Linked DNA regions of Homo sapiens: region 2 is linked to region 1. The links come from fine-mapping of genetic effects on gene expression. A gene starts in region 1. The other region holds a variant in brackets. All regions are shown on one strand. Distances are between the middles of the regions.

What was found. PIP is the estimated chance that this variant, and not a neighbour inherited with it, causes the effect.
Region 2: its variant is fine-mapped to the expression of ABCC8 in nucleus accumbens (GTEx, PIP above 0.99). The same link has a PIP of 0.9 or more in caudate and putamen.

The regions. Positions count from the first base shown.
Region 1 is chr11:17,472,895-17,483,459 of GRCh38, reverse strand. It overlaps ABCC8 (ATP binding cassette subfamily C member 8), which reads left to right and starts at 6,615. Exons shown (of 39, transcript NM_000352.6): 1 at 6,615-6,831; 2 at 8,433-8,574. The coding sequence starts at 6,684. LOC124902641 (a long non-coding RNA gene) reads right to left here and starts at 6,809. Exons shown (of 2, transcript XR_007062609.1): 1 at 6,729-6,809. RefSeq lists an enhancer at 7,403-7,959.
Region 2 is chr11:17,417,216-17,427,513 of GRCh38, reverse strand. It overlaps ABCC8 (ATP binding cassette subfamily C member 8), which reads left to right. Exons shown (of 39, transcript NM_000352.6): 16 at 360-465. Among named protein-coding and RNA genes, the nearest start is that of KCNJ11, 34 kb to the right of the region's middle. The variant G/T (reference allele first, on the strand shown) is at 3,316.

The sequences.
Region 1 (10,565 bases):
AAGATCTAGTATTTAGATAGCACAACAGGGTGACTACAGTCAGCAATAATTTATTGGTACATTTTTAAATAACTCAAAGAGGGCCGGGCACAGTGGTTCACACCTGTAATCCCAGCACTTTGGGAGCCCTAGGCAGATGGATCACCTGAGGTCAGAGTTCAAGACCAGCCTTGCCAACATGGTGAAACCCCATCTCTACTAAAAATACAAAAAAATTAGCCCGACATGGTGGTGTGGGCCTGTAATCCCAGCTACTCGGGAGGCTGAGGCAGGAGAATCACCTGAACCCAGGACGTGGTGGTTGCAGTGAGCTGAGATCATGCCACTGAACTCCAACCTGGGTGACAGAGTGAGACTCCGTCTCAAAAAATAAAATAATTCAAAGAGTATAACTGGATTATTTATAACACAAAGAAAAGATAAATGCTTGAGGTGATGGATACCCCATTTATTCTGATGTGATTATTATACATTATCAAAAGATCTCATGTACCTCATAAATACATCCACCTACTCCGTATCCACAAAAATTAAATAAATAAATAAGAACAGGGGGCTTGCTCTGCAGACACTGCATCCAGACAAGTCCCCCATCCCACCACATCACACCCCCTTCCAAAGGGATAGCTTCCACTCCCGTTTTCGCCTTCTTCATCTATCCCACCCCTGCCTAAGCCCATCCCTGTATCTCAGAAGGCTGCCCCAGTAGGAACCCGGACTCTGACACCTTCTTTGCTGGATGACCTTGGTCAACCAAGGTTTTCTCTCTGCCTTATTCTCAACTTGGTAATAGCAATCATACTACCTGCTTTAAAGAGAGATGGTGACTAAGCCAGAAAATGTAATAAAAGACTTGGCACTAGGTAGGAACTCAATCAATTATTAAAAAAACAAAAATAAAAATAAATATCAGTGACCATCTTGGGATTTCAGACAAGAAGCCCTCGGCTGACCTGAAAGTGGAAAAGCTTGACTCGAGTGTCTCCTTTGTGCCAGGCTTTCTCACACACACAACCCATAAAAGAGAGGTTATTCTTCCTATTTGACAGCTGAGGCTTAGGGAGGTTGACTGGCCCAAGGTCACACAGCTGGTCAGGGGTAATGCCAGGACCTAAACTTCCCCACCACAGAGTTTGGTTTTAGGCAAGCTCTGCTCAGGGGATAGGAGCTGAAGTCCCTCTGGGGAGAAGAGAGGAACATACAGGAAATGGGAAGTTATTGAGCAGTGCCCTCGCATCACTTGGCCTCGGCCCCAGCTCTAGCAGGACCCTCCAGGCCCAGACAGCTGAGGCCATGCTGTGCCAGCCAGAGGCATCTGTCAAGGTCCTGGCTGGGCCAGAGAGCAGAGTCCTCTTTGGCTGAACTCTGAGAGACAGTCTGCAACACTGTGGCCCTGAGCAGGGAGCGGGTTCAGCCAGCACACCTTATGGGATTCCACAGCATTGGGCCAGACCCAGAGCTGTCGCCGTGCTGTTCACACACATTTCCTTCCATCAGCAGTGGCAGCTGTCTCCAAAGCAAATCACTGCAGGGTCATTTGTGTACCTGTTTCACCCACGGGTATAAGGCCCCAGGGAGCAGGGCCCCATCACCCTCGAATCTTCCCATCTGACCCCCGACTGATAACAGTGACAGAACTAGGCCTTTCTTTCGGGTTCTAACACAGAGAAAAGGCAAAAGGCACAGATACACAGGTTTCCCCAAAGGTCTGTTCTTTGGGCCTTGCGCTCCTTCCTCAGGAGCCAAAGTCTCAGAAGCAGAAAAATCCTCGATACCCCCAGGATCCCTTTGGGAAGTGGTTAACAGCACAGGCTTTGAAGCCAGGCCTCACTGAGTTTGGGTCTTTTCTTCACCAACTCCTCCAGCTGTGTCACTAGGGAATGGGGCTTAACCTCTCTGAGTCTCAGTTCTCCGATAGTTGTAACTACTAGGCAGGGTTACTGTGAGATTTAAAACACGTAAAGTGGTTGGCATATACTAAGCACTCAACAACTATTGGTGAAACAAAAAGGAGAAAATCTTATCCTCAGTAATCTTCCCAGGAAGAGAGCAGGTTTGGGGATGACCAGCAGCTTGGGAAGGGAGCAAGACTTGCTAGAGAAGTCCTAAGTGGGTAAGCAAGCTGAAGGCAAATATTGACTTGCTCTGGGTCACAATGGGCATGTTTTTTAAAAAAGACACCGTGTGGAAGAAAGGAAGAGGAGATATGAGATACACACAAAGGAGAAGACCACTGGGGGTACAGGAGAAATACGGGGGTTTACTAAGTTTCTGCTGTGAGTTGTGTGAATTACAACTTTTCTAGCTCTCTGTAAAGAGCTCAGTAAAGCTTTCATTTTTTTAAACCAATGGACTGGGTGTTGGCTGTTTTAGAGGATGCAAGGAGATGCTGAGTTTGACCTTAAGTGGCCTCAAGGGTATAGAGCAACCAGGCCATCCGTAGGAGTTACCCTTCTGCATTGTGTTACTGTCGTGAGGGGGATCTTGGACCAAAACTTAAGTGGGCAAGAGCAAGAATGTTATTTAATTTCTGTATCAAGTCCCCATCCCACTAGACTGGCAGAAAACATTAGCCTTGGGCCTTCTTGGATTTCCTTCCCCACCTCTCCAGTTACGTGATGCCAAGAGACCGGGGAGAGTTCGTCTTGTTCCTGCCTCACCCTCGCCATTCAAGTATGGCTGAGGGTCCCCTGCCTCTGTTGTCTAGAGGCCCTGCCCTGGGACAAGAACACCTTTCTTCAAAACAGCCCTTGTATGTGAGCCAGGCACAGTGGCTCACACCTGTAATCCCAACACTTTCAGAGGCCAAGGTTAGGGGGCGGGGGGGATCCCTTGACGCCAGGAGTTTGTGACCAGCCTGGGCAAAACAGTAATACCTCCATCTCTACAGGAAAAAAAAAATAATCTTAAAAACCTAAAAAGCCCTTGTATGGATTTTCTAACACAGTCTACACACAACCTGCCCTTTCTGGGTGGCTGTCCCCCAGCCACCTCTACAACAGACAGGCAGGGAGGCTGGGCACAGGCTCCCTCTCAAAAGAACTTCTCTCTCTACTTCCCTCCTCCTGACATGGGGCAGGATGGAGATGAGACAGGAGATCACTTCTCCCTCCCAGGTTCCAGTTAAGACATTTTGTCTCTACATCAGTCCTCTCTTTCACTGGTTCTACAGTCTTCCAAGTTCCCCTGTGGATACAGGCTTTGAGCACCTGAAGGAGACAGGAAAGGACACACCTTTCCCAGTCAGTAAGGGTCACCCGAACTTAGGCTCTGTACTTGTTCTCCACTATTCCATAGTATAGGTCACACCATGAGTTTTGCTTTTGTCTGTTTTTAACCAGGCCGCTGTTGATTGTGGTTATTGAAAGGGTTTATTTCTTCAACTATAACCCCACTCCATTACGTCACCATTGTCATTGTAATGACCCCCTCTGCCATGGTCACTGGAACACTGGCACTCCTAGTCAGCCAGATAGAGACAAAGGCACTAAGGCCAGAACAACATCAGAGCTGGAAGGGACTTTTTGTTTGTTTGTTTTGTTTTGTTTTGTTTTGAGACAGGGTCTCTCTCTGTCGCCCAGGCTGGAGTGCAGTGGCCCGATCATGGCTCACGGCAGCCTTAACCTCCCTGGCTCAAGGGATCTGGAAAGGACTTTTCTGAAGCTCTGCACCAGCCCCTTTACTGCACCCTGCCTGAGGCCACACCCACCCAGTAGCCGGTGAGTGTGAGAATCCAATCCCGGAAATCCAGCCCTAGTTTTCATTTTGCCAGGAGAATGGCTGGGAATTCTCAGAGCGGGGTACCCTTGCTCAAAGCAAGCTCTCAGAGTCTGACCTTCTTCCAGCCCCTAGCAAGAGAAACAAAAGGCATGGCTAGAGGTGGGGAAGCACCAGAGACCCAGCATCTCCCCGACAGAGGCAGACGTAGCCCTGTTACAGACATGAATGATTTTGTATGCCACACACCGCTCTGCGTCTGTGTCTTGGACATCTTCCCCTGCCAGTAAGCATAACTCTATTCTCTGCGCTTGCTCCACAGTATCCCACAGTACAGACAATATCTGTTTTTTGTCTGTTTGGGTTTTGTCTGTTTGAACCAGCCCCATACTGATGAGCATTTGGGTTGATTCCAGGAATACAACCCATATACTACAAAGGAAGTCCTTTCATGCCTCCGTGCGCACCTGACTCCACACTTTTTCAAAGTAATTCTCCCACCCACATGGTGGGCAGTGTGGTGCATGTCCTCAGTGTAGACCTAGGTGCAGGGAAAGGTGGAATTTGTCCACAGTCACACAGTAAGTTTGTGCTAGAGATGGCAAACACGAGTCCCCAAGACTCCAGACTTAACACTCTCTTAGTCCCAGTTGATGCTCCCTTAACACCAGACTTTTTGTTTGTTTCAAATGACCCAGAATAGGCAAGTGTGAGGGTTGCACCAGGCAATGTGGGGTGAGGGAGAGACCATTAAATAACCCTGATTGATCAAGGGGCTGCCGTGTGTAGTCACCCATGGGATGAAGTAGCTTGGACTATCTCCCCAACTTGCAAAGCACATTCATACCCATGATCTCATCTTAATCTTCTGGGTTCCATATTATTATCTTTTCCATTTAGAAATAAGGAAACTGAAGTGCAGAATGGTAACCTGCCCCCAAATCACACAACTAGTAGTAGTAGAGCCAGGACTAGGAGCCCTGTTCTTTAAAAGTAAATATATTATTACTGCTAAAAAGAAAGATAGCATTGCTGAAAGTGTGAAAAAACTGAAATTGTAACTACAAAAGAAAATAACAACATTGCAGAAAATATGAAAAAAAAAAACCTTGAAAGCAAGAAAAACAAACTAAAAGAAAAAATCTTACTGGGTGACCATGGACCTGTCATCTCATCTCTCTGAACCTCAGTTGTCTCATTTTTAAAGAAAGGGAATGAGGATAAGCACAGCGACGGCAGCCAGTACATACTGAGCACCGCCTTACCAAATTTCCAAGTCTGACCTTTCCCTGCAGGCTTCATGCAAGTATACATATTTCGTACGGCTATAATCATGGGAAGCACAATTTTGTTTGCCGTTTTTCACCTGACACTATCTTGTAAAGTTTTTCTATTGACTACACAGACTCAGCTAGCACCGTCCCAGCAGTTGCATTTTTCAAGGTTGATTAACCCCTGTCCCTGGTGCTGGATATTTCTTGCCACCAAGTTTTCACTATTTTGGCTGATGCTGCAAGAAACATCTTTTGGCTTCTGAGAAATTCTCCAAAGTCAGAGACTGAGGCATTCAGACCCTGAACTCCTGCTTTCCCAAGGCTTTTCACCCAACCCCATCTGCCCTCTGCCTCAGGGCCTGGGCAGAGCCTCGGCCTTGCTGACAGCGTGCTGGAGAGGCTCACCAGGCTCAGCAGCCTCAGGGCAGGCTCAGTGAAGCTTGTAGGCAAAGGGGCTGAAGGGGTCTTTCTTTTGTGTTCCCCTGACTGTTCCTAAGAACATGTGCATTTATGCTTCATACCCTAACTAGGAAAGTTCTCCTTAAATCTAACCCCCAAATCCCATCTTCTGTTCTTTCTACATACAATATAAACTTCTTTGGGCCACAGTCTTGTGAGAATCTCTCCAAAACGTATAGGAAGACATAATGTTGTCTTTACAATTGCACGGTGTCCTCCAACTGTTAAGCCTGTCCCAGGTGAGGTTAAGAATTTCAGTCCCTCTCCACTGCCTCACATCCATCTGGCCAGATGCGTTTCTTAAACTCCTCTTTATCAGCCTGGGGCTGTCACCCATTCTACCCATTGGTCTGCCAGTCGCTGTAAGGTTGTCATGTACCAGAGGCATGAGTACAAATGATGGGGGTGGGGACGGGGGACCTGAGGAGCTGGGTTCAAGCTATGCTTCCCTGCTTGCTGGCACTGAGACCTTGGGGGAAGTCATGTTACTGGCCTCCCTTCAGCTCCCTCGCAGCTTGGGTTTCCCCATCAGAAAATTGGAAGCGATTAGAACCTGTACTTAGCAAGAGTTCTGGGACATCCCTTGTGTGAAAGTGCCAGATACGCTGTAAAGCAGTACCTAGGAGTGCCCCACCTGGGACCACTTTTGAAAATGTCCAAGCCCCACCCCACCACCACCACCACCACAAGGTAACGTTCTGCCCCACTTTTCTCATCCATGTTGGGTGGAGACTTGCGCCATCCCTCGGCTCTCTACATCCATCCGCACCACGCCCAGGTGAACTCACACTCGGGACCCTGAACCCGCCCACTCCAGGCCTTGCGGGCCCTTCTCTCCTCTTCTGCACGCCCCACCCTCCTTTCCCACCCAGACTCCAGTGTGCCCACACCCCACTCCCCATCTTAGCCTGCCTTTCCCCTCTCCCCCAGCGCACGCGTGCATCAGGGCACTCACGAAGCCACCCCGGCAACATCTGGGAGCACGCGCCTCCACATCTGGAAGGTGGGCGCAAGCGTAGCAGGGCCGGTCGGGTTCCTCGCCGCCCCCCGGCCCCGCAGGTGGTGGAGCAGGGCGGGGTGAGGGAGGGGGAGGCCAGCGGGGCTGGGCGGGGCCCGGGGGGCGGGGGCCTGACGGCCGGGCCGGGCGGCGGAGCTGCAAGGGACAGAGGCGCGGCAGGCGCGCGGAGCCAGCGGAGCCAGCTGAGCCCGAGCCCAGCCCGCGCCCGCGCCGCCATGCCCCTGGCCTTCTGCGGCAGCGAGAACCACTCGGCCGCCTACCGGGTGGACCAGGGGGTCCTCAACAACGGCTGCTTTGTGGACGCGCTCAACGTGGTGCCGCACGTCTTCCTACTCTTCATCACCTTCCCCATCCTCTTCATTGGTGAGTGCGCGCAGCGAGCCGCGGAGGAGGGGACGGGAGAGCAGGGAGGGAGGAGGAGGCGCTGCGCGCCGCACCGCTCGGCGTCCCCTTCCGGCCCGCGACCGCCGTCCGCCTCGTTCCCGGGGTCCCCTGCCCTGTGTCCTGCCCGCCGGTCCCCGCACTCGCACACCAGCTCATCCCTTCACTCCCCCGGTGCCCCCGATCCCGCGCCAAACACAGCGGACGTTTGTGACCCATGGGATCACCAAGTTTTGCTTCTGCAGGGCCAAGAGCTGGGATGGGGAAAAGGGAAAGAGGAGGTCTCAGCACGCAGTGGGAAACTGGAGAGGGGTCGGGCCTCACCCTCCGTGGCGCAGCTTAGGGAGCCGGGTCACCCCTCCCGCAAGGCAGCCTCCCTGTCAGCCGCAGCTGGGCCTAGGGAAGAGGGAAGCCTGTGCTTTGGAGTCTGGGATGGAGGCCCAGCTAACCCCTATGCTTTCACCGGGCTGAGCCGCGCAGTGGTCCGTGATCTCTGACAGTCCCAGGCCCGCGCCCTGGGCGAGGAGAGGCGAGAGCTAGGGACTTGGATTCCCTTCCCCCGCCACCCCACCCGGGCATGTGTCTCCAGAGCGCAACTTCTCAGGCTCTGCGCAAAGTAGCTCCGACTCGCCGACGCAGCGACCCCGGCGCCCTTGCTTGCAAAGTTGGGCGCCACGGCCGGGACAATCGTGCGTGCCTCTCCACTGAGGTCCCCCCCATCTCTCTCCAAGACCTTGACTCTTCCAGACCAGTCAAGTCTATCAACTCATAGGGTGTCCCCTGCATCCCCAAAACGTGTTCATTCACTTTAAGAAAACAAGCAAATCTTAAAATTCATATACAGCTTTGGGGAAGAAAGGAAAGATTGTCACAAAATTAGATTTACAAGAGGTTGCTGCAGAAGCAGAGTTGCTAGTTATTAACAAAGACAGTTAGATAGAAATAGAAATAAAACATACAAAATATGTGCTCATATGTGCATCAAAAATCAAAAAAGAACAGCATTTACACTTCTGTTCTCAGCCAAACGGTTTATTAACCTGATGACTTGTCACACAAGAAGTTAGTATGTATAATGGGGTACCTTGGCAGGGCACAGTGGCTTACATCTGTAATCTCAGCATTTTGGTGGGCTGTGACAGGAAGACTGCTTGAGTCCAGGAGTTCGAGACCAGCCTGGGCAACATAGTGAGACCCCCCCCGCCCTTTCTACAAAAAATTAAAAATTAGCTGAGCATGGTGATGTGCGCCTGTAGTCCCAGCTACTCAGGAGGCTGAGGCGGGAGGATCACTTGAGCCTAGGAGATCAAGGCTGTAGTGAGCCGTGATCGTGGCACTGCACTCCAGCAGAGGCAACAGAGCAAGACCCTGTCTCAGTAAAAAGGTGTGGTGGGGGAGGTACCAGCATAGGACCAGGCTGAATGAGTTGGACGTTTAGTTTGTGTGTACCAGCCTTGGGGATCCTCATGTGTAGGTGTCACCCTCACCATGGACCCAATGCCCAAGCACCTTTCTGGGGTTCATGCACCCTCTTCCTCCTCCAAGTGGGCAGGCATCCTGCCTCTGACTGTCTCTCCCTGCAGGATGGGGAAGTCAGAGCTCCAAGGTGCACATCCACCACAGCACATGGCTTCATTTCCCTGGGCACAACCTGCGGTGGATCCTGACCTTCATGCTGCTCTTCGTCCTGGTGTGTGAGATTGCAGAGGGCATCCTGTCTGATGGGTGAGTGACTGTCTGAGGACTCAGGAAAGTGAATCTGCTCCAGGGTACTTCCTGAAAGGCCCAAGGAGATCCTAGCTCACCTATATTCCACAAGCCCATGTCTTTTGTTACTACATCCAGCAGCTCAGTGTCTTCTATGTGCCAACCTCTCTGAGCTGGGCACTGGACGCAAGTGAGTCCCAGGCCCTGCCATCAGTCCAGGAGAGCAGAGGGAACACGGACCTGCATGCCAAGTCCCAGTGAAATAATGCTAGAGCCTATTAGAATGCCACAACTCCAGTGAAAAATGTCTGGCCTCTTCTACAACCTGCCGGAGTTACCTTCTTGGAAAAAAAAAAAAATCTAACCATGCCACCCACTCTTGCATAAGACCTTTCCTTGGTTCTCAGCTGTTTTGAAGATGTGGTCTCAGATCCTCAGCCCACCATTCAAGGTCTTCACAGTCAGCCCCACCTATCTCTGGCCTCATTCCCCATGCCCACCTTCCGTTTGGGCCTCACAGCACACTCCTCACACCTCTGCTACAGCACAGATCACACTGTATGTTAAAGTTTATGTCTATTTGCAAAACTGTCTTCAGAGTCAGAAAGGCCTAAGAGTTAGAATCTGAGTCTTGTTCATCTTTGTGTTCACAGTGCAAGGCATGTGATAAACATAAACATTATTCAGTCCATAAACATTTATTGGGTCCTTAGGAGAATGAATGAAACCATGTTACAAATAAGTACTCTGGGAGGTGAGAGGAAGGCAGAATTGGGCAAGCTCCATGGTTGAGAGGGCTTTGGAGCGGAGTCTGGAAGGGTGACTAGGCTTCAGACACACAGAGGAGGAAGGAGAGAGAGAACTGGTGGTGCCTGAGGGAAGGGAAAAGGCACCAAAGAGAAAAGCAGGTAGGGCTAGGGAGCAGCGCAGGGGCTGGAGCATTAAACACAGGCTGGGGAGCGATGGAGGCTGAGGCTGGGAACCCAGGTTGGGGCATCTCAGGAGGACTGTGAATCCCAGCCTGCATGTTTGGGTCGGATTTGGTCAGCAGTTTGGAACAGAAGAGAGATGTCATCAGCATAACACTTTTAGGTGGGAACCTGAGGTGTTCAGCGCAGGCTGGAGGCAGGGAGAATCTAGAGGTATAATAGAAGCAGGACTTAGCATTGACTGCAGTAGTCTAGGTGAGCAATAACTGCAGACAGAAATGGTGTGTCAGCAGTCAGGGACAGAAGAGGAGCGGGAGCAGCCATCTCACTAAGGAAGAATCCAGTAACCAGCAAGGATGAGAGACTGCCAGGAGAGGGAGTGGTGGAGGAGAGGGATATTTGGCTTGAGTATCTGAGGTCCAGCGCCCCCTGAGCTGGAATCAGATTATACCCAGACTGCACTCCTGCAGTGCTGCCTGGCTCCTGTAGTTGGATGGCAGGGGATAGGCTCCCTCATCCTCCCTCCCGTTCCCCACCTTCCCTTCCCCAATGTCCCTGCATCCTGGCTTCAGCAGTGATCTCTAAAATACCTGCTTGACTTGGAGGCAGCAGCTCTGCCTGCTTATTAAAGTCCCTAGACCAGCAAGAAGACCAGAAGGCATACTGCTACACAAGCACGTGACAAGTCCGCCTCCACCCCCACCCCTACACCCCTTCCAAAGTAGCACAAATGCCACAGTGAGCCCTCAGATGGGAAATACTCACCAGATGGTGACAGAGAAAGACACCTCCGCCCTTGGAGAAGGAAGACCTGGGTCTTCAGTGAGCACTGCTGCTGTGTACCAGCTATGGGACTTTGCACAAGTCATTCAGGCTTTCTGGGCCTCATAAGCATTTATAAACATACGATAAAACATTTTAGTTGCCAACTTAAAAATGTGTGAGAAAGTATAAGGTGTTTCAAAATTATTTCAAGGAGTAAAGAGGCAAGAGTTTTGAAGATCCCTGGGCAGGGTGTTGGCTGTTCCCAGTGTGGCCATTCATGACTGCTCTCTGGCCTTATGAAACAAGCATCATAGT
Region 2 (10,298 bases), 56 kb after region 1:
TGGCAGAGGCAGCCATGAGCAAAGTATGGAGGTGGGTTGGAGGTGGGACCCAGGATGGTGTTTCTTGGGACCACAAGGAGCCTGGGCTCATACTAGGAGCATGGGAAAGGAGAAGCGAGTGCTTAGGAAGGGTGGCGGGGCAGGAAATCAGAGAGGGGGAAGGACCTGGGGAGCCAGAGGAGGATGTTGATTTCCAGAAGGAAAGGATTAAAGAGGGAGAGGACTTGCTGGGGATTCTAGGTAGGAAGAAAGAAAACAGGGGCCCCAGGGTTGGGTGCATCTGTCTGTCTGTCTTTCTGGGTAATGGTTGTTCAGACTCCCCCGGCCCCACTCACATCTGCCACCCTCCCTCCCTGCAGGCCAGCTGACTATGATCGTGGGGCAGGTGGGCTGCGGCAAGTCCTCGCTCCTTCTAGCCGCACTGGGGGAGATGCAGAAGGTCTCAGGGGCTGTCTTCTGGAGCAGGTAATACATGTATCCTCAGGGCCCAGTGGAGGGGAAATCTCCTTTTAACCATCCTCCTCAGTTGAGGATGCACACACATTTATTGGAGGGCCCACTCTGTGTTCAGTGAGGACTCAATAAATGCTGCTAATGGATATTCTCATCATCATCACTAGTACGTATTCACCTCTTACTATGCGCAGGTTCTTTGCTAAGTCCTTTGCATGCATTATTTCATTTAATTTTTATGATAACTAACAAGGTCCATACTGTTCTCAATTCTCATTTATAGAGGAAGGTTAAACTATTTGTCCTAATTCACACAGCTAATAAGTGGCAGAGCTGGAATTGAAACTCAGTTCTGTCAGACTCTGAATCCCATGGTTACTCAGATGCACGGCAGTAATTTCCCAGTGTGGGAAATTGCAACACCAACATTGGTTTCCAGCTTGGTCCTGAGCTGCACTGACCTACACACCATAAGTGGGTGTTCTGAAGATCCAGATGTAACCAATAAATGTTGGTTTCTGGGCAAAGATCACTGTCTTAATTAAAGAGCCAGAACCCCAGGCTCAGTCAATCACGAATCTGTTATTTATACCCACCTACTTCCAAGAAGCACTTGAAACTAGTTGATGAAAGATTCATGTAAAAATCAAAACCACAATGAGATACCATCTCACACCCGTTAGAATGGTGATCGTTAAAAAGTCAGGAAACAACAAATGCTGGAGAGGATGTGGAGAAATAGGAACGCTTTTACACTGTTGGTGGGAGTGTAAATTAGTTCAACCATTGTGGAAGACAGTGCGGTGATTCCTCAAGGATCTAGAACCAGAAATACCATTTGACCCAGCAATTCCATTACTGGGTATATACCCAAAGGATTATAAATCATTCTACTATAAAGACACATGCAGACGTATGTTTATTGCAGCACTATTCACAATAGCAAAGACTTGGAAACAACCCAAATGCCCATCAATGATAGACTGGATAAAGAAAATGTGGCACATATACACCATGGAATACTATGCAGACATAAAAAAGGTTGAGTTCGTGTCCTTTGCAGGGACATGGATGAAGCTGGAAACTATCATTCTCAGCAAACTCACACAGGAACAGAAAAGCAAATACCACATGTTCTCACTCATAAGTGGGAGTTGAACAATGAGAACACATGGACACAGGGAGGGGAACATCACACACTGGGGCCTGTCTGGGGGTGGGGGGCAAGGGGAGGGATAGCATTAGGAGAAATACTTAATGTAGATGAAGGGTTGATGGGTGCAGCAAACCACCATGGCATGTGTATACCTATGTAACAAACCTGCACGTTCTGCACGTATATCCCAGAACTTGAAGTATAATAAAAAAAGATGCATGTAAAATAAAACCCTTTAAAAAGGTAAGAAAATAGGAACTGAGAAATGAAGAGGGTAAAAAGATGTTCAGCAACCTGGGCAGAGGACAACTACAGCCATCAACATAAAACCTGGCTCTGTGCCCTCTGGTAGCCAAGGGAAAAAGGGATCTCTGGGCTTTGGAGTATTCATTTAGGAATAAAAGTTGCAGCCAATCAGCAGAAGGGCAAGCTTTCCCTACCAATCATTTCTAGGGGAAAATTATTGAAGGTGTCAGGTTTTTCATAAGCATGAGTACAGAACTGAGCAGGGAGAAAGACTTTGGGCCCAATGTCTGAATATCAACATGCACCCCCGTTTCCTGCATTTCCAAGATGTCCCTGAATGGTGTATCCAAAAGATGGCAAATTTCCCTCCTCAGTGGGGTCGTGGGCTAGCAGATGAGCCCCTTGGGTTTCCCATCACCTCCCATCAGGGACTGTGATGTCTTTGGGGGCAGAGGGGTCTTTGCCTCCATTCGCCATTTTATTTGGGAGATTTTTCAACATAGCCTGACTGGGAAGGCCCAGGTATTCGGTTTGAGATCATATTGCCTTATTCCGACTGCCTCTCCAGCCTTTGGAGGGAGGAGCCCTTTTCTGCTGTCCAACTGCATGCCTGCAGCAAGAAGACAAGAGTCCCCAGTGCACTGTGAGCTGAAGAAAGTAACCAATATTTATTGGGTACCTCCTATGGGCCATGCCCTTTGCTAAGTGCATTGTCAACATGATCTCATCAAGCCTCCTACTAAGTTTAGGAGGGGAGTGTTGTTACCCCATTTCACAGAAGCAGAAACTCAGGCTCAGAGAAGTTGGGTGACTTACTAGTCAGTGTGTGGAGCAGAGACTCTGCCCATGTTCTTTCCCTCAAACCTGGTCACTGCTGGGGCCCCCAGGGCCTAGTCCTAAGGGTTATTGTCCAAGCCCCATGTAGTGGTCAGGCTGGATCTGGGCTCTCCTCCAAGGCAGGGCTTTTCCAGAAGGATTGCAGGGCTCAGACACTGGAGCTGCCCCTGCCTTGACCTGCTCAGCATGGATGTCAAAACCCACTCTGAACCTGGTCCCTTTGCCCTGCTTTCTTCTCCTCCCCCACCCTCATGCCCTCATGTGGCATCGTGCCTGCCTCAGGAGCTCTCCTTGTCCTATGTAGATGAAGCAGGCATGATTGGCAGGGGTCTGCTCTGCCCTGCCTCAGTCCCCACCTCTTCTCCAAGCTGTGCCAACCCTCCGGGTCTGACTGCTGCCCCTCTCTCTTAGGAAACCTCTGCCCCAGCCCAGGGAACACAAGGAGCCTCTCCAAGGCAGAGGACCCTAAGCACTTCTTTTTTTTATTATTTTTTATTTTATTTTAGGTTCTGAGATACATGTGCAGAGTGTGCAGGTTTGTTACATAGCTATACATGTGCCATGGTGCTTTGCTGCACCTATCAACCTGTCATCTTTTTAAGCCCCACATGTATTAGGTATTT[G/T]TCCTAATGCTCTCCCTCCTCTTGCCTCCCACCCCCCGACAGGCTCGGTATGTGATGTTCCCCTCCCTGTGTCCACGTGTTCTCATTGTTCAACTCCCACTTATAGTGAGCACATGTGGTGGTTGGTTTTCTGTTCCTGCCTAAGCACTTATTATAGGCCAGGCACTGTGCAGGCACCTCATCATCTCAGTCAGTCTGCACCGAACTCTGTGCAGTAGATATTATTATATCCTCATTTATCAGATTAGGAAACTGAGGTGAAGCAAGTTGTCCAAGGCCACCCAGCTGTTAAATGGCAGAAGTGGGATTTGCACCTAGGTGCTCAAGTGCATTGGTTTGCCACCATGTGCTCAAAGAGAAGGGGCACAAGAGCCTCATGAAGAAGGCATAGCTAGCCTGACAGTCCAAAGGCCAGCAGCCGCTGTGGCCATGACTCACACACACCTGCCTCCTCCCAGAACTGCCACGTGGGTCCTCACAGCTCTGTCCTTATCAACACTTACTCTCCTTTACAGGTAGCCTAGGCCCCAGCTCCCAGCTCTGTTCGAGGCTCGCAGAGGGGCGGTAGTGAAGGGGTCTCATTTCTCCAGGATCCTCTTTGCTCTCTCGCCCGGTCCTGGTCCAGCTTCCCTTTCAAGCATAGTGAAGTGCATTTGTTAGCTTGCAGCCAACCCTGGGAAATCATGAGAATTTGTTCCCAAGTCAACTCATTCTCCAGCGTCCACAGTGACGTATTCACTCACCCAGTTGAGCGCCTAGTGTATACTAGACCCTGTGACAGCAACAGGAGTGCAAAGGTGACTAAGACGTGGCCCCTGCTTTTTTTTTTTTTTTTTTTTTTTGAGACGGAGTCTCGCCCTGTTGCCCAGGCTGGAGTGCAGTGGTGCGATCTCAGCTCCTCACAAGCTCTGCCTCCTAGGTTCAAGCGATTCTCCTGCTTCAGCCTCCCAAGTAGCTGGGACTACAGGTGTACACCACCATGCCGGCTAATTTTTTGTATTTTTAGTAGAGACGGGGTTTCACTATGTTGGCCAGGGTAATCTCGAACTCCTGACCTCATGATCCGCCCGCCTCAGCCTCCCAAAGTGCTGGGATTACAGGCATGAGCCACCACCCCTGGCCGGCCCCGCTTTTAAGAGAGGGGAGAGAAGACCTGGGCCTTAGAAGAGCTCAGAGGAACCACAATTGACTCTGCAGTCAAGGAGAGGAGGCTCACTGCGGATGTGGTATTTGAGCCTTGAAGGATGAGTGTGGTTTCATCAAGTAGAAAAGGCAGGGATGGGAAAGGGAGGTGGTCCAGGCAGGGGTGATGGTGTGGGCAAAGCCTTGCTGATATTAAAGAACATAGTTCTGTGCACCTGGAACACTGGATGCATGGGGTGCATTATGAAAGATGGGACTGAAGAAGTGAACTTGGCTTAGATCCCATGTAGTAGGTCTGAGAAGTAAGATTTAACCCAAAGGTTGCAAAAGAACCATGCTTGTGATAAAGGATGATGGATTGGGGAAACAGAGAAAAAGACAGACAGACTGTAGGAAGGGAGGTATTAGCAAATAATCATAACACAGTGTGAGGTGTGCATTAATATTCACTCATTCCAAGTATTGATCAAGAAGAGAGGTAGGTACTGGGTTAGGAAACAGCTTGGGCAAATGCATGGGGAAATGAGAGATGTCAAGATGCATTCTAATGGCAGCCTCTTGAAGATCTTAAGTTGTTTTTGGTTCACTCATTTCGCAAATGAATTCATTTAGCAAAAGCACTATGGATACAGTGCTTACCTCTAGGAAGTAAGTTTTAGCCCAAATGCTGCAGAAGGATCATGCTTATGACAAAGGATGATGGACTGGGGAGAGAGAAAAAGAAAAGACAGACAGACTCCAGGAAGGAAGGTCAGTCTGCAGCTCCTTATAGTGGCTAGGAGAAGGAGTCTAGGCAGATACGACTCAATTAGCTTCATCTGCTGTTTGTCTCTCAAAATCTAGACATGTGCACTGCTCTGGCTGGCCCACCTATCCTGGGCATTGAGTTAAGTGTGGGGGCTGTGTGTTGAGAGTCCCCCTCCATTACTGGCAGGAACTCCACACCTCAGACATTGAGCCCCAGGTCTGCAGGGAGAAGACGTGCTTGCAAAGTGAGCTAAAAGCAAAACAGCCTCTGACCTGGCAAGCATTCCCAAGTCTGCACGCCTGCAGCCAGAGGAGAGGGTGATGCCAGGCTGCTGCTCAGATGCTTTTCAGCCATACCCAGGCCAAGACCTGGTGACCAGGCAGCCAGAAGGAGTTCCAGGAGGCACAAGGCAGGAAGTTGGGGGATTAGGAGGTGTAGAATGGAGAATGCTCTGGGGAGATGGGTGCTTTGTTGGTGCAACTATTCGTTTATTCCTCCAGTGACCACGTGAGCAGTATGGCTGCACACACAGGCTCTGCAGCCAAGCTGCCTGGGTTCACATTTGGTCTCTGTGCTTTGGAAAATTTCATAAGCTTTCTCTACCAGTTTCCCTTATTACCCATGAGATTGATGTGAGGATTAACCTAGCATGTAGTAAATATCCTATAAATATTATTATTCAATAGTGTACTTCTTTGCCAGGAACAAAATTCACCTGTTCCTCTTTAAATGTCCTCCAGTCTGTCTCCTGGGAAAGATTCTTGTGAGCTCCCTGGGGACAGGGACCATATTTTGTTTGTCTCACTGTATCCGTAGTGCTTTTTGCTAAACGAATTCACTTGCTAAATGAATGAACCAGGAACAACTTAAGACCTTCAAGAGGCTGCCATTATAATGCATCTTGACATCTCTCTCCTTTCCACATGCCTTTGTCCGAGCTGTTTCCTAACCCAGTATTTCACTACCCCTCTTCTCCATCAATATTTGGAATGAGCAAATACCGTTAGTGCATACCTCACATGGTATTATAATTATTTGCTAATGCGTCTGTCTCCTCCATGACTCTGAGCTCCTTGAGGGATTATTCCATGTTGTACCCCAGGTGCCCCATGCAGATGTGTATTTTGTGCACTGTTCTGTGTAGGCTACAAAGGAAAAGGCCTAGCACCTGCCCTTGGGGAGCTCACCCACCCAGGATGGACAGAGGTGTGCAGACAGAGCTGCAGGGTGGGCACAAAGGGTCCATCTGCTGAAGTCCTGCAGATGCAGCCCCGAGCTTGTCCCTCACGTCAGCAGCCTGGCTCCTGGTCTCAGAGAGAACTGTGTGGTTCCCAAGCATTCACTTTAGGAAGAATCACTTGCCCCTCCCTGGCTCTCTGCTTCAAGGAACTGTGACAACCTTGGGATTTGCAAACTCTCTCTTTAATCCTTAAGAGGAAAATGTTTTGGTAAAAAGTCAAGATTAGCAGATACACTCGGGTGAAATTCTTTCCCTGGAAATAAAGAATAGAGCCATTAATATCCACAGTAGAGTGACTTTAAATGCCCCCGGGGGGTCAGCAGGAACCAGGGCCCTGAGGAAAGGATCAGCGTGGGGAAGAGGCTCCCACTTCCCTGTGAGGAGCTGCACATGCAGTCTCACTGGAGCTCCCTGCTGCAATGCTGTTGCCTGTGGTGGTTGGTGTGGATGCTGCCTGCCAAGAGCCCTGATTCCCCAGGAAGAGAGAAAAAGGCTTCTCTCAGGACGGCCCTGGTCGCATCTGCCTGTACAATTCCTGGAGCCTTTGGGGAGCTGAAGTCAGGGGCTCAAGTGCCCCTGGGTTTCCTGGAGGAGGCAGGTGTGGTGAGACAGCTGACAGACAGGAGAAGGGATGCTCTGAGGAAGTGACTGTCCAGCCATGGGAACCAGATGGCCCCTGGCTGTAGTCCTGATGCTGCCACTTGCTAGCTCTGTGACCTTGAGCAGGTTACTTCACCTCTCTGAGACAGACTCACTGTCTGGACAATGAGTAAAACCCTACCTTTCCTGTCTCAGAGATTTGGCAATGGGACCCAATGACATCAATTGGAAAGGATGCTGTGGGTGAAAGGTAACCTTTCAGGACAGCGACAAGCCTGTCTGGGCAGGATGAATGGGCTGTGGAGCCCTGTATATCCTAGCTCACTCTTTGAACCTCAGTTTCCACTTCTTCCCTTTTTATTTATTGCCGGGGTCTTAAATGAGTGTTGGGGGTATCTGATTCTCCCTCTGCCTGTACTTTTGGGGCCAAGCACTGAGCTGAAAAGACAATTCCTCCTAGTTCTCCAAGCCTACAACCTGCCCCCTAACCAGCTGTGAGCTGTAATACATTCTCCAGTGTCACTGTGAGGTTTGTGCCTTCACCCCCATTTTATAGATCAGGAAACAGAGGCTCCTCCAAGTAAAGGAGCTTGCCTCAGATTTCACAGCCAATGAGTGGAAAAGCCTCTGGGATTCAAATGTCAGAGCCCATATTTTTCCTACTTCTCGCACCTGTTATCATATGCTGCCTCTTCCTTTAACCTGCAGTTCCCTCCCTTCACCTCCACCGTCTCAATCCTTCCCACTCTTTAAGGTTCAGTTCAGCTATGACTTCTTCTATGAGGCTCTACTCATTTTCTCAGATTTCTTCCTCCTCCAAATTTCTTGTAAAAATTATGTTTTTTCTCTGATTCTAAAAGAATGCACATTACATTAGAAAAGATACACAAGCATACAGAAGATAAAAACCACCTAATATCCCATCACCCAGAAGCTTCCAGTTTTTCTTTATGCATTTGCATATGCATTTGTGTTTACTTTTCCCCAAAAGTTCTCCGATACTTTGTCCTACTTTTCTTTTGACCCTTATAACTTCCTGACTTCGGTACCTTTCTGATTTGCCCTACCAGAGTGTGAGCCCCTGGAAGGCAGCCTCTGCACCCTGATTCAGGTTGCCACACATATGCCAGCTCCTAGTGGGCTGGAGGGAAGGACATGCGGTTGGGGAACTGGAAGACTCATGCTTTCAGCTGTGTGCTTCCTCCCTAGAGTGCAGGCAGAGGAGGAATCGAATCCCCTCAGCACTCTTGTAAAGACCACAGCAATGAGTGAGAGATGGTGCCTGCCAGACATACCATTCTTTACTTTTCAGCTTAAAACAGATACAAAGTTTGGGGAGGCTCACTGGAGGAGGCTTGGGGCTACACTGGAAAGAGAAGAACTTGGATTCACACCCCAGCTTCCCCTCTTCCCAGCTCTGTCACATTTGCAAACTCTGAGTCTCAGTATCCTCATGTGTAAAATGGGGATAGGGTTTATAGGGTTGTAAGGATGAGATGATGAGTTGTTTGCAAACAACTTCTCACAGTGCACAGTGAAGGTCAGCAATGAGAGCCAGCCCCGCCCTTTCTTCTTTCCAAATGATTAATATATCTGTTACCAGCCTCCATTCATTATATAGCTCTGTCATGTGCTAAGCACCATGGGGGCTGAAAAAGATGTTCTTCCTGCCTTAAAATTCCACTGGGGATGAACAAATTACACGGGAGCTGATCAGAGAGGAAGGCAGTCCATTATGAGGGCTAATTGAGCAGTGCAGACCATGTTGCAAACTGAGTTAGGGCCTGGAGAGCTTACTGTGTGCTGGGGTCCTCAGGAATGCCACAGATGCATCAATAACCACCTCTGCTACTCTGGAAGTAGTCACATCAGGAAGACTCCAGAGATAAGCTTATCTGGGCTGTGGCCACAGAGCTGGAATTTGTAAGCTTTAGGTTTCTATGTCTCATGTTACCAGCTTGTCTATAAATTGTAAATTACAGCCATCTGATGGTTAGGGAATATGAAGTTTGGTTAAGAGAATGAAATGAGACCACGAAGATTAGAGAACAGGAAAAGAGGGGACTGGGGACTACATACCCATCAGAATCTTCATTCAGTCCTGACCCTCAGCAGGAGGGGGATTTCATCAGGCTCATTTCCATCCTTGATTTCGTCCATCCTGGTTCTCCTGACAAGGGGCATTTATCAGAGTTATGGCATGGGAAATCACAGGGGAGTAATGTACCATGGCATTTAAGAGTATGAACGTTGGAGTCGGAGCTATTTTCTCCGCTACTTACTAGCTGTGTGACTTTGGGCAAGTTACTTAGCCTTTCTCTGAGCCTCACTTTCTTTATCTGTAAAGTGAGGGCGATCAGAATAAACCTCCTTCATATGGTTATTTTGAGCTTTATAAAGAGACAATACTGGCTGAGCACGGTGGCTCACTGCCAGTAATCCCAGCACTTTAGGAGGCCAAAGCTGGAGGATCGCTTGAGCCCAGGAGTTGGAGACCAGCCTGGGCAACATAGGGAATGAGACTCCTGTCTCTACAAAAAATATACAAAAATTAGTCAGGCATGGTGGTACGTGCCTGTAATCCCATCTACTCAGGAGGCTAAGGCAGGAGGATCGCTTGAGCCCAGGAGGTGGAGGTTGCAGTGAGCCAAGATCACGCCATTGTACTCCAGCCTGGGCAACAGGAGTGAAACCCTGTCTGAGAGAGAGAGAGAGAGAGAAAATACTACTATGGTGCTTATAAAAGTTCAATAAATTTTAGCTGTTGTTAGTATTATTAAAGTAAGATCTGTATGAAAATAAAGCAGATTTTTTCCCCCAAATGTTCATGTCAGAAGTATATATTTCATTGGCAAGGGGCTGCTTCTGGAAGGTTGAGAGGTATCCTGGGGGAGGGGATAGAGCACTGGCAAAATTGGCATCACAATTCAAGTCACCTCACTCAGTGTTTTTTAAGTTATCAAAATCCACAGTATGAAAAGCATTTGACATTACAGTCCACTATATTTATGCATTTATAAACAAGAGAAAAAATCACGAAAAATACAGTACCACGTGCAGTACACACTGATTCCATCTATTCTTTTTTTTTCTTTTTCCTCAAATGCACTTGCCGCCTACTTATTCCAGACCCAATGATTGGGTCCCTATCCACAGTTTGGAAAACACTATAAGAAATGATTGTGTCCTCTCACTTTCCCTCTCTGGGATTTAGTTTTCCAACTATAAAATGCTCCTGATGCCCAGCCAGCC